2 separate regions of the Homo sapiens genome follow, and region 2 is linked to region 1. The links come from fine-mapping of genetic effects on gene expression. A gene starts in region 1. The other region holds a variant in brackets. All regions are shown on one strand. Distances are from middle to middle. Region 1 holds the start of ZDHHC13 (zDHHC palmitoyltransferase 13). Region 2 has its middle 15 kb from the start of PTPN5.

Region 1 (4,396 bases):
TGGCAAAAATCCAACAGCACCGATCTTGGAATCAAAAGAACCAAATTCAATGAGAGCAGTAATGTTTTTGTCTGTTTTGTTCACTAATTTATCACAGCACCTAAAACGGTGCCTGGCAGACATTCAAAACACATTTGCTGAATGAACGACTGAAGTCTTGGCTCTATCACTTAGCAGCTATTTGACTTGTAGCAAGTGATTCCAGTTTTCTGAGCCTCTGTTCTCATTTCTAAAATCAGAATAATCATTTCTCCCCACCTCAGAGGATTATAGTGAGGATCAAAAATGGGGAAGTATTTTGCAAACTGCAAAGCAGTATATATAGGTGAGGTCTTCACATTACTGAAAAAGTGAACAAGAGCAATTATTATTAACAACGACAATGATCTCTCTACCTTTCCCTACTAAATTCAACCACCAAATCATTCTCTCCCTCTCTATAGGCCATGGAACTGGGACAAGGCTAATCTTCCCTTCAGCATGAGAGAGTGAACTTTAAGCACTTGAAGCCTTCTGTAAATGAGTGGCAGTAATTAAGACATAATAGTTACTCCTACCAACTTTTCTTTGAGCCTCTCTGAGAAAAAGAATGAGGCGCTGTTTCCATGTGAAGATTCAACACCCTTTGGTAAAATCCAGTCTGCCTGAGAACTATTTTTTTTCTGTTAAAATTCAAGAATAACCAATAAGAACACCTTGACATTTCCCCAGACATCTTGTCCCTCACTTAAACCTACACAAGATCGTGCTGAAAGAAGGGAAAGGGAAAGCATGAGGAACACTCTCGGGACTGGAAAAACGTTTTTAGAGATCAGGTAATCCAATCATCCCAAACTGAGAATCTACCGCCTAACTGATTCCAGCTGAAGACAGCTTTAGTGTTCGTTCTCATCTGTATATGGGGATAATATCTTCTTAAGGATGCTTCAATTCTGGAATAAAATAATGCATATGAAAGCATCTGACATGGGTTATGCACTCACTAAAACTGGCTGAACCTGGAAATTCTGCATTTATTCAATAAATATTAAGTGAACGTCTACAATATACTAGTCAGTACTCTAGGCACTAGGAAAGGGCCATAAGCAAAAAGCACAAAAATCTTGTTTTCTTGGAGACAACATCTACCTCCTGTAACTTCTCCGACTGGCCCGCCTGGCTTCTTTGGACCTCCGTCTGGCTTTTATATAACACCTCCTCCACGGAATATTGTCCTTTGAGATTCTGCAGATCGCTGTGGTGTACCTCCCCTCTCCACGCCCCTTTCCTCCATCCTAAACAAGCAGCCTTAATTATTTCAAGGAGTAAGCAAGGATGCGGAAACAGGAGCGAAAACTGGACTGGGTGGGGTGAAGGCGGGTGCTAAGACGCCAGGGCTGAAAAAGAAATCAACAGAACCGCTCCGACTCCGGGCCAACGTCAAGACGGGCGGGTCCGAATCAGGTGTGTCACCTGACACCTCTCCCGGGAAGGGCCATCGTCCCCTCCCCAGGCCCACAGAGGTCCCCGCCGGGCTCCGGGTACCGGCCCCAGGGGGCGCCCTGGCCAGGGATGGAGGCTGGAGGGGCCGGCTCGGGCCCTCACCCCTCAGTCCTCGCCTTTTCTTCCCAGTCGCCTCAGAGACAATTTCCAGCATCGTTCGTGGTGTTTCCAGGCTCCCGCTTCCCAGACCTAGGCCCCGCCGCTCCCGAAACCCCCTCATCGAGCGGCCTCTCACCCACACCATCCTTTCCTCCACAGCTGCAGCCGCTCTCCCGGCCCCCAGGACAGCCACCGCCCGGCCGCACTCACCTGCGAGCCCAGCCCCGGCCCCTCCATCTCCCCAGGAGCCCACAGCGGCTGAGGCTACTAGGCAAGTAGCGACTGCCGCCAGCCCGCCAGCCCGCCTTGGGTCGCCTCTTCTCCCACTTCCTGCTGGCGCCCTCACCTCCGCCGCTGCGGTCCCCGCTCGTGCCCTGAGCCGTCAATCGGTCCCGGAGAACCAATCCCAGCCCTCCATCGGCTAGGGGCGGGACTTTCTCACCTCCTGGGAAGCCCGCTGTGAACAGCTCGCCAGAGGCTCCACCCCCGGCCCGCCCGTGCCGGTCGCTCCCCCAGCCCCAGCCCAGGACCGAGCGCCCCTCCCTGCCCCAGGTGCCACGGGCCCCAGATGTGCGTCCAGGGTCAGGATCAGACTGTTATTCCAACGTCAACCACCATCTATTGAGAGCAAATCTGGACTTGGCTACTTAATTGCTAAATGACCTTGTGAAAGTCTCTTATTTTACCTCAATTTTCTCATCTGTGAAATGAGGAAAATAAGGGTACCTACTTCATGGAATTATCAGGAGGATTAAATGAGAAAACGCATGTAAAGCCCCTCAGCCCGTGCGTTACATATAAAAAGGAATCAATAGATGTTAGCTATTTAAATGTTTTCCACTCCATTTGCGTGATCTTGGGCAAGTCACCTCTACCGCCTGAGGTTCTGTTTCCTCAAATGAAACAAAAAATGAGTTCTACGGCGCAGGCTAGAGGGGGAGTGGGCGAGAGCCTCCCACTTGAAGTGCACCTCCCCCCTGACCTCCACGACCCTTTGTGGAGGGCACTGGAGGAGCTGGCATTTAAGCCCTGTCCAGCTTGAAGGTCTATGAAGCAAGCATTAGGGATGGCTCCTTCCCTTGGGGCGTTCCAGTGGGGCAGTGGGGCTCTCCTACTTCAGCCCCGAGTAAACACTGGGGTTTTTCTAGCCCAGCACTTAACACAGTTCTTTGTAATGGTTCCTTAGATGTGTCTGTTGCCAAGTGGAACCAGATTAAGACCTTTAGAAGCTAATTTGAAAACGATCTGAAAACATTATGACTTCCTTATTTTATAAAAATAATACTAAATCATAAAATAAATAAATAGAAATCCAACAAAGTGCTGGGTTTTCCATGGAAAATATTGCTATGATACAATAAAATCGTAGATGTATTACTATTGCTTTAGTGTCTGTGTCCTTTGGGCACGTCAGCCCTGGCTTGCCCCCAAAAGCCCAAACCCTTTGAGGATAGGAACCATGTCAGATCCATCTCTGAACTCCCAGTGTCTAACACAGCACTGGGACATGGAAAATGCTCAGCACAATTTTAATGAATGATGGATGGATGGATGTACAGGCGTGTCATTAATACACGGACAAATGGAGTGACAAGTAGAAGTGCAAGCAACTCCCACCGAAAGCCAGAGGAAAAAGCAATTAATTCCGACAAGTTAGGATGAGGCATTGGGTGAGGATTCATACAGGAAGGAATGTTTGGGTTTGGTCATTTTGCTTAACTAATAAGAGCTTTCTGGCCGGGCGTGGTGGCTCACACCTGTAATCCCAGCACTTTGGGAGGCCGAGGCAGGTGGATCACGAGGTCAGGAGATCGAGACCATCCTGGCTAACACGGTGAAACCCCGTTTCTACTAAAAATACAAAAAAAAAAAAAAAATAGCCGGGCGTGGTTGTGGGCGCCTGTAGTCCCAGCTACTAGGGAGGCTGAGACAGGAGAATGGCGTGAACCCGGGAGGCGGAGCTTGCAGTGAGCCGAGATCGCGCCACTACACTCCAGCCTGGGTGACAGAGCGAGACTCTGTTTCAAAAAAAAAAAAAAAAAAAAAAGGTTTATTTATTCATCACTTACTATGTGTTGGCACTGTGCTAGTGTTTTCATACATTATGTCTCATCCACGAGATGGGTGGTATTTTCCTCATCTCCTGGGAGGAGAAACTGAGGTTCAGGCTGATTCCATAAACCCCAAGTCACTCAGCAAGTAAGTAGTAAAGAGAGTATTCAAACCCAGGTTTCTTACTGCAAGCATTTTGGCTGAAGTAGTTTGTTTCTTTCATTTTCAAAGTCTGATTTAGAAGATGCTGAACTTGAGGGAGGCTTAAAATCTGTTTCAATGCGTCTGCACTAATATCCTAACACATTGGAAGATTTTGGAGCAACTAAATCCGAACACCCCACTCCTTAGTCAGGCTCCTGGTTTCCCTCTGCTCATGTTTTATGCTTCCAGTGAGCTATTTCAGATTAAGCATATCCATGTCTAATGGCTATATGAAACCAAACGCAGTGATAGCCTCTAACTGCCCCCAATACCTCTCAACTTTGAAAATACCTTTGCTGGGATAGACTGGATTAAGAAAATGTGGCACATATACACCATGGAATACTATGCAGCCATAAAAAATATGAGTTCATGTCCTTTGTAAGGACATGGATGAAGCTGGAAACCATCATTCTCAGCAAACTATCGCAAGGACAAAAAACCAAACATCGCATGTTCTCACTCATAGGTGGGAATTGAACAATGAGAACACTTGGACACAGGAAGGGGGACATCATACACTGGGGCCTGTTGTGGGGTGGGGGGCTGGGGGAGGGAT
Region 2 (4,396 bases), 310 kb after region 1:
AAAGAAAGAAAAGAAACCAGCCTGTCAGGATAAAACTGTCAACAGGTTAGCTACAGAGGGACTGTACCTCAACACAATAAAGGTTATATATGACAAACCCATTGCTAACATCATTCTCAATGCTAAAAAGTTGACAGCTTTTCCTCTAAGATCTGGGACAAGACAAGGATGCCCACTTTCACCACTTCTTTTCAACACAGTACTGGAAGTCCCAGCCAGTGAAATCAGGCAAGAGAAAAAAAAAAAAGACATCCTAACAGGAAAGGAAAGAGTAGAATTGTCTCTATTTGCTGACAACATGATCTTATATATAGAAAATCTAAAGCCTCCACCAAAAAACTGTTAGAACTGATAAATTCAGTAAAGTTGCAGAATACAAAAGAACCATACAAAGATCATTAGTGTTTCTATGTACTAATAACAAACTATCTGAAAAGGAAATTAAGAAAACAATCCCATTTACAATAACAAAATAATTTAAATGCTTAGGTGTAAATTTAACCAAGGAGGTAAAATACCTGTATACTGAAAACTATAAAACACTGATGAGATAAATTGAAAGTCAGGTGCAGTGGTAAGCACCTGTAGTCTCAGCTACTTGGGAAGCTGAGGCAGGAGGATCACTTGAGACCAGGAGTTCAAGTACAGTGTAGGCAACATAGTGAGATTCCTGTTTCTAAAAAATAAAAAATTGAAGACTACACAAATAAATGAAAAGATATCTCACGTTGATGGGTGTGAAAAATTAAGATTGTGAATATGTCCATAGTATCCAAGGTGATCTAAGGGTGCAATGCAATCCCTATCAAAAATCCAATGTCTTTTTTTTTTTTTTTTGAGATGGAATCTCGCTCTGTTGCCCAGGCTGGAGTGCAGTGGCACAATCTCAGCCCACTACAACCTCCGCCTCCTGGGTTCCAGCGATTTTCCTGCCTCAGCCTCCCAAGTAGCTGGGATTACAGGCACGCACCACCACGCCCGACTAATTTTTGTTTTTTTTGGTAGAGACAGGGTTTCACCATATTGGCCAGGCTGGTCTCCAACTCCTGACCTCGTGGTCTGCCTACCTCGGCCTCCCAAAGTGCTGGGATTACAGGCGTGAGCCACTGCGCCCAGCCCCAGTGTCATTTTTTACAAAATGGAAAAAAATCCTTAAGTTTGTATGGAACCACAAAAGACCCCAAATAGCCAAAACAATCTTGAGCAAAAAGAACAAGGCTGGGCCAGGTGCAGTGGCTCATGCCTGTAATCCCAGCACTTTGGGAGGCCAAGGCAGGCAGATCACGAGGTCAGGAGTTCAAGACCAGCCTGGCCAACATGGTGAAACCCTGTCTCTACTAAAAATACAAAAATTAGCCAGGTGTGGTGGTGCATGCCTGTAGTCTCAGATACTTGGGAGGCTGAGGCAGGAGAATCACTTGAACCTGGGAGGCAAAGGTTGCAGGGAGGCAAAGGTTGCAGTGAGCCAAGATTGCGCCACTGCACTCCAGCCTGGGCGACAGAGTGAGACTCCATCTCAAAAAAAATAAATTAATTAATTAAAAAAAAAGAACAAGGCTGGAGGCATCACACTTTCTGATTTCGAAACATGTAAAGCAATGCAATCAAAACAGCATTGTACTGGCATACAACAGACACACTGACCAGTAGGACAGGCTAGAAAACCCAGAAATAACCCTTGCATTTACAGTCAACTGATTTTTGACAAGCATGCCAAGAATACACAATGGGGAAAGAACATCTCTTCAATAAATGGTATTAGAAAAACTGCACATCCACACACAGAAGAAAGAAATTAGACCTTTATCTTACACCATACACAAAAATCAACTCAAAATGGGCAAAAGACTTAACTATAAAGCTGAAACTGAAAAGCTACTAGAAGAAAACGTAGGGGGAAAGCTTCATGACAATTTTCTGGGCAAGGATTTCTTGGATAGGATCCCAAGAGCACAAGAAACAAAAAGAAAAATAGGCAAATGAGATGGCATCAAAGTAAAAAACTTCTGCATAGCAAAGGAAACAATTAACAAAAGGAAGAGACAACCCATAGAATGGGAGAAATATTTGCAAACCATACATCTGATAAGGGGTTAATTTATAAAATATGTAAGGAACTCAATTCAAGAGCAAGAAAAAAAATAAATAACCCAATTTTTAAATGGGCAAAGCGCCTGAACAGATATTTCTCAAAAAAAAAAAAAAAAAAAGACATGTGAGTGACCAATAGGTACATGAAAAAAGGTCAGTATCACTAATCATTAGGCAAATGCAAATTAAAGCCACAATGAACTATCCCCCATACCTGTTAGAATGGCTTTTATCAAAGAGATAAGATATCAAGTGTTAGAGAGGATTCAGAGAAAAATGGAACTCTTATATACTGTTGATGGGAATGTAAATTAGTACAGCTGTTATGAAAAACAGTATGGAGTTTTCTCCAAGTATTACAAATAGAAATACTATAGGACTCGGTAATCTCCTTTCTGGGTATATATTAATAAGAAGCTGAAATTACACTTTGGGAGGC[T/C]GAGGTGGCCAGATCACCTGAGGTCAGGTGCTCGAGACCAGCCTGGCCAATACGGCGAAACCCTGTCTCTACTAAATATACAAAAAAATTAGCCTGGTGTGGTGGTGGGTGCCTGTAAGCCCAGCTACTCGGGAGGCTGAGGGAAAAGAATCACTTGAACCCAGGAGTCAGAGGTTGCAGTGAGCTGAGATTGCTCCACTGCACTCCAAGCTGGGTGACAGAGCAGGACTCCGTCTCAAAAAAAGAAACTGAAATCAGTATGTTGAAGGGGTATCTCCACTCTCACATTCATTGTAGCATTATTCACAATGGCTAAGGTAGGAGAACGATCTAAGTTTCCATCAACAGATAAAGAGAAATATGGTGTACATATTCAATGGACTACTATTCAGCCTTTAAAATGGGGGAAATATTGTCATTTGCAACAACATGGATTAATCTGGAAGACATTGTGGTAAGTGAAAAAGCCAGGCACAGAAAGACAAATACCTCACGATTTCCTTATAAGTGAAATGTAAATATGTGAATTCATAGAAGTAGACAGTAGAATAATGGTTACCAGATGCTGAGGAAGAGGGGAGGGAGGAAATGAACAGTTGCTGATGAAAGAGTACCAAGACCCAGATTACATAAGAGGAAAGGATTTTGAGATCTATTGCACAGAAGGCTGACTATAATCAATAACAATGTATTATATAATATATTTCATAATAAGTACATTTCAAATGTCTCACCTTAAAAAATGATAGGCAAGAAAGGTGATTGATATGTTAATTAGCTTAATTTATTAATGCCACATTGTATACCTATATTAAAACTTCACATTTTACATCATAAATGTATACAATTATGGTTTGTCAATCTAACATAGTATTAATAATTTAAATTTTTTAATGTCAGGTCTATCTAATTCTGAAGCCCATGTTTTTTCCACCATACCATCATTTCTGTATTTAATAAAATGTTTGTTTCATTTTCAAATCATTAAATCATAGAATGTGTTCCTGATTCTTCCCCTTCCCTGTCCTCCTTTCCCCATTCCCTTACAGGCTTCCCCTGAGAGCACTCCTTAGTAAATCACATGCACATGAATCCCCACCTCAGATTCTGCTTCTGGAGAACGTGGCCTGAAATTACAAAAGTGATCTCAATTTCAACATGGGCACAAAGTTTAAGTGAAGCTTAAATTGAAGTAATGATCATTTGAAAGTTATGTTCTGGACCAGGGATTCCCAATCCTCCCTGTGACTGAAATCACATGGTACAGTTTTTAAAATGCCATTTCCCAGGTCCTGTCCTAGATCTCCTTAACCAAAATTCCAGAAGTCTGACTTAGGAGTCTCCTCTTTTATTTAAGTTATAATATTTCTGATGATGGAAGTTTTGGAACCCATTGGTTTAGACAACTCAGTTGTATTGGATGGTTTAGACATACCCGTATATGAACTTGTGGGTGGGATATGCAAAATGAAATTTTGAGGTTCCTGCCAATATTACAAGTCTATGGTTCAGTTAACAATTTATCACAAATCAATATCTCTTAATTGAAAAAGTGATCTTGATTTTAAACCAGGCATAGCATGATCATTTATTACAAATGTAATTTAATGTGACTTTCTGAAATTCTGACATGAAAATTTTTGAATACGGTACTTGTTTAATTGATTACATTTTATAAAATGGTAACAATTCTTTTTATTACTAAGGTAAACATGTTACTATATTAGTCAGAATAGACTAGGTTACACTCTTACAACAGTTGGAGTAGACTAGGTTACACTGTTGCAACAAATGATACCAAAATCTCAGTGATTTAACACAGTAGAGGTTAAACTCCTGTTCATACAAAGTTTACAGCATGTCTGG

The links. PIP is the estimated chance that this variant, and not a neighbour inherited with it, causes the effect. A credible set is the group of variants that fine-mapping cannot tell apart.
Region 2: its variant is the best candidate, but not a certain one, in a credible set for the expression of ZDHHC13 in monocytes after Pam3CSK4 (Quach 2016, PIP 0.60).

What each region holds. Positions count from the first base shown.
Region 1 is chr11:19,114,672-19,119,067 of GRCh38, reverse strand. ZDHHC13 (zDHHC palmitoyltransferase 13) reads right to left here and starts at 1,900. Exons shown (of 17, transcript NM_019028.3): 1 at 1,792-1,900. The coding sequence starts at 1,818. RefSeq lists silencers at 1,481-1,710, 1,801-1,880, 1,931-2,170.
Region 2 is chr11:18,804,829-18,809,224 of GRCh38, reverse strand. No RefSeq gene overlaps it. Among named protein-coding and RNA genes, the nearest start is that of PTPN5, 15 kb to the right of the region's middle. The variant T/C (reference allele first, on the strand shown) is at 2,531.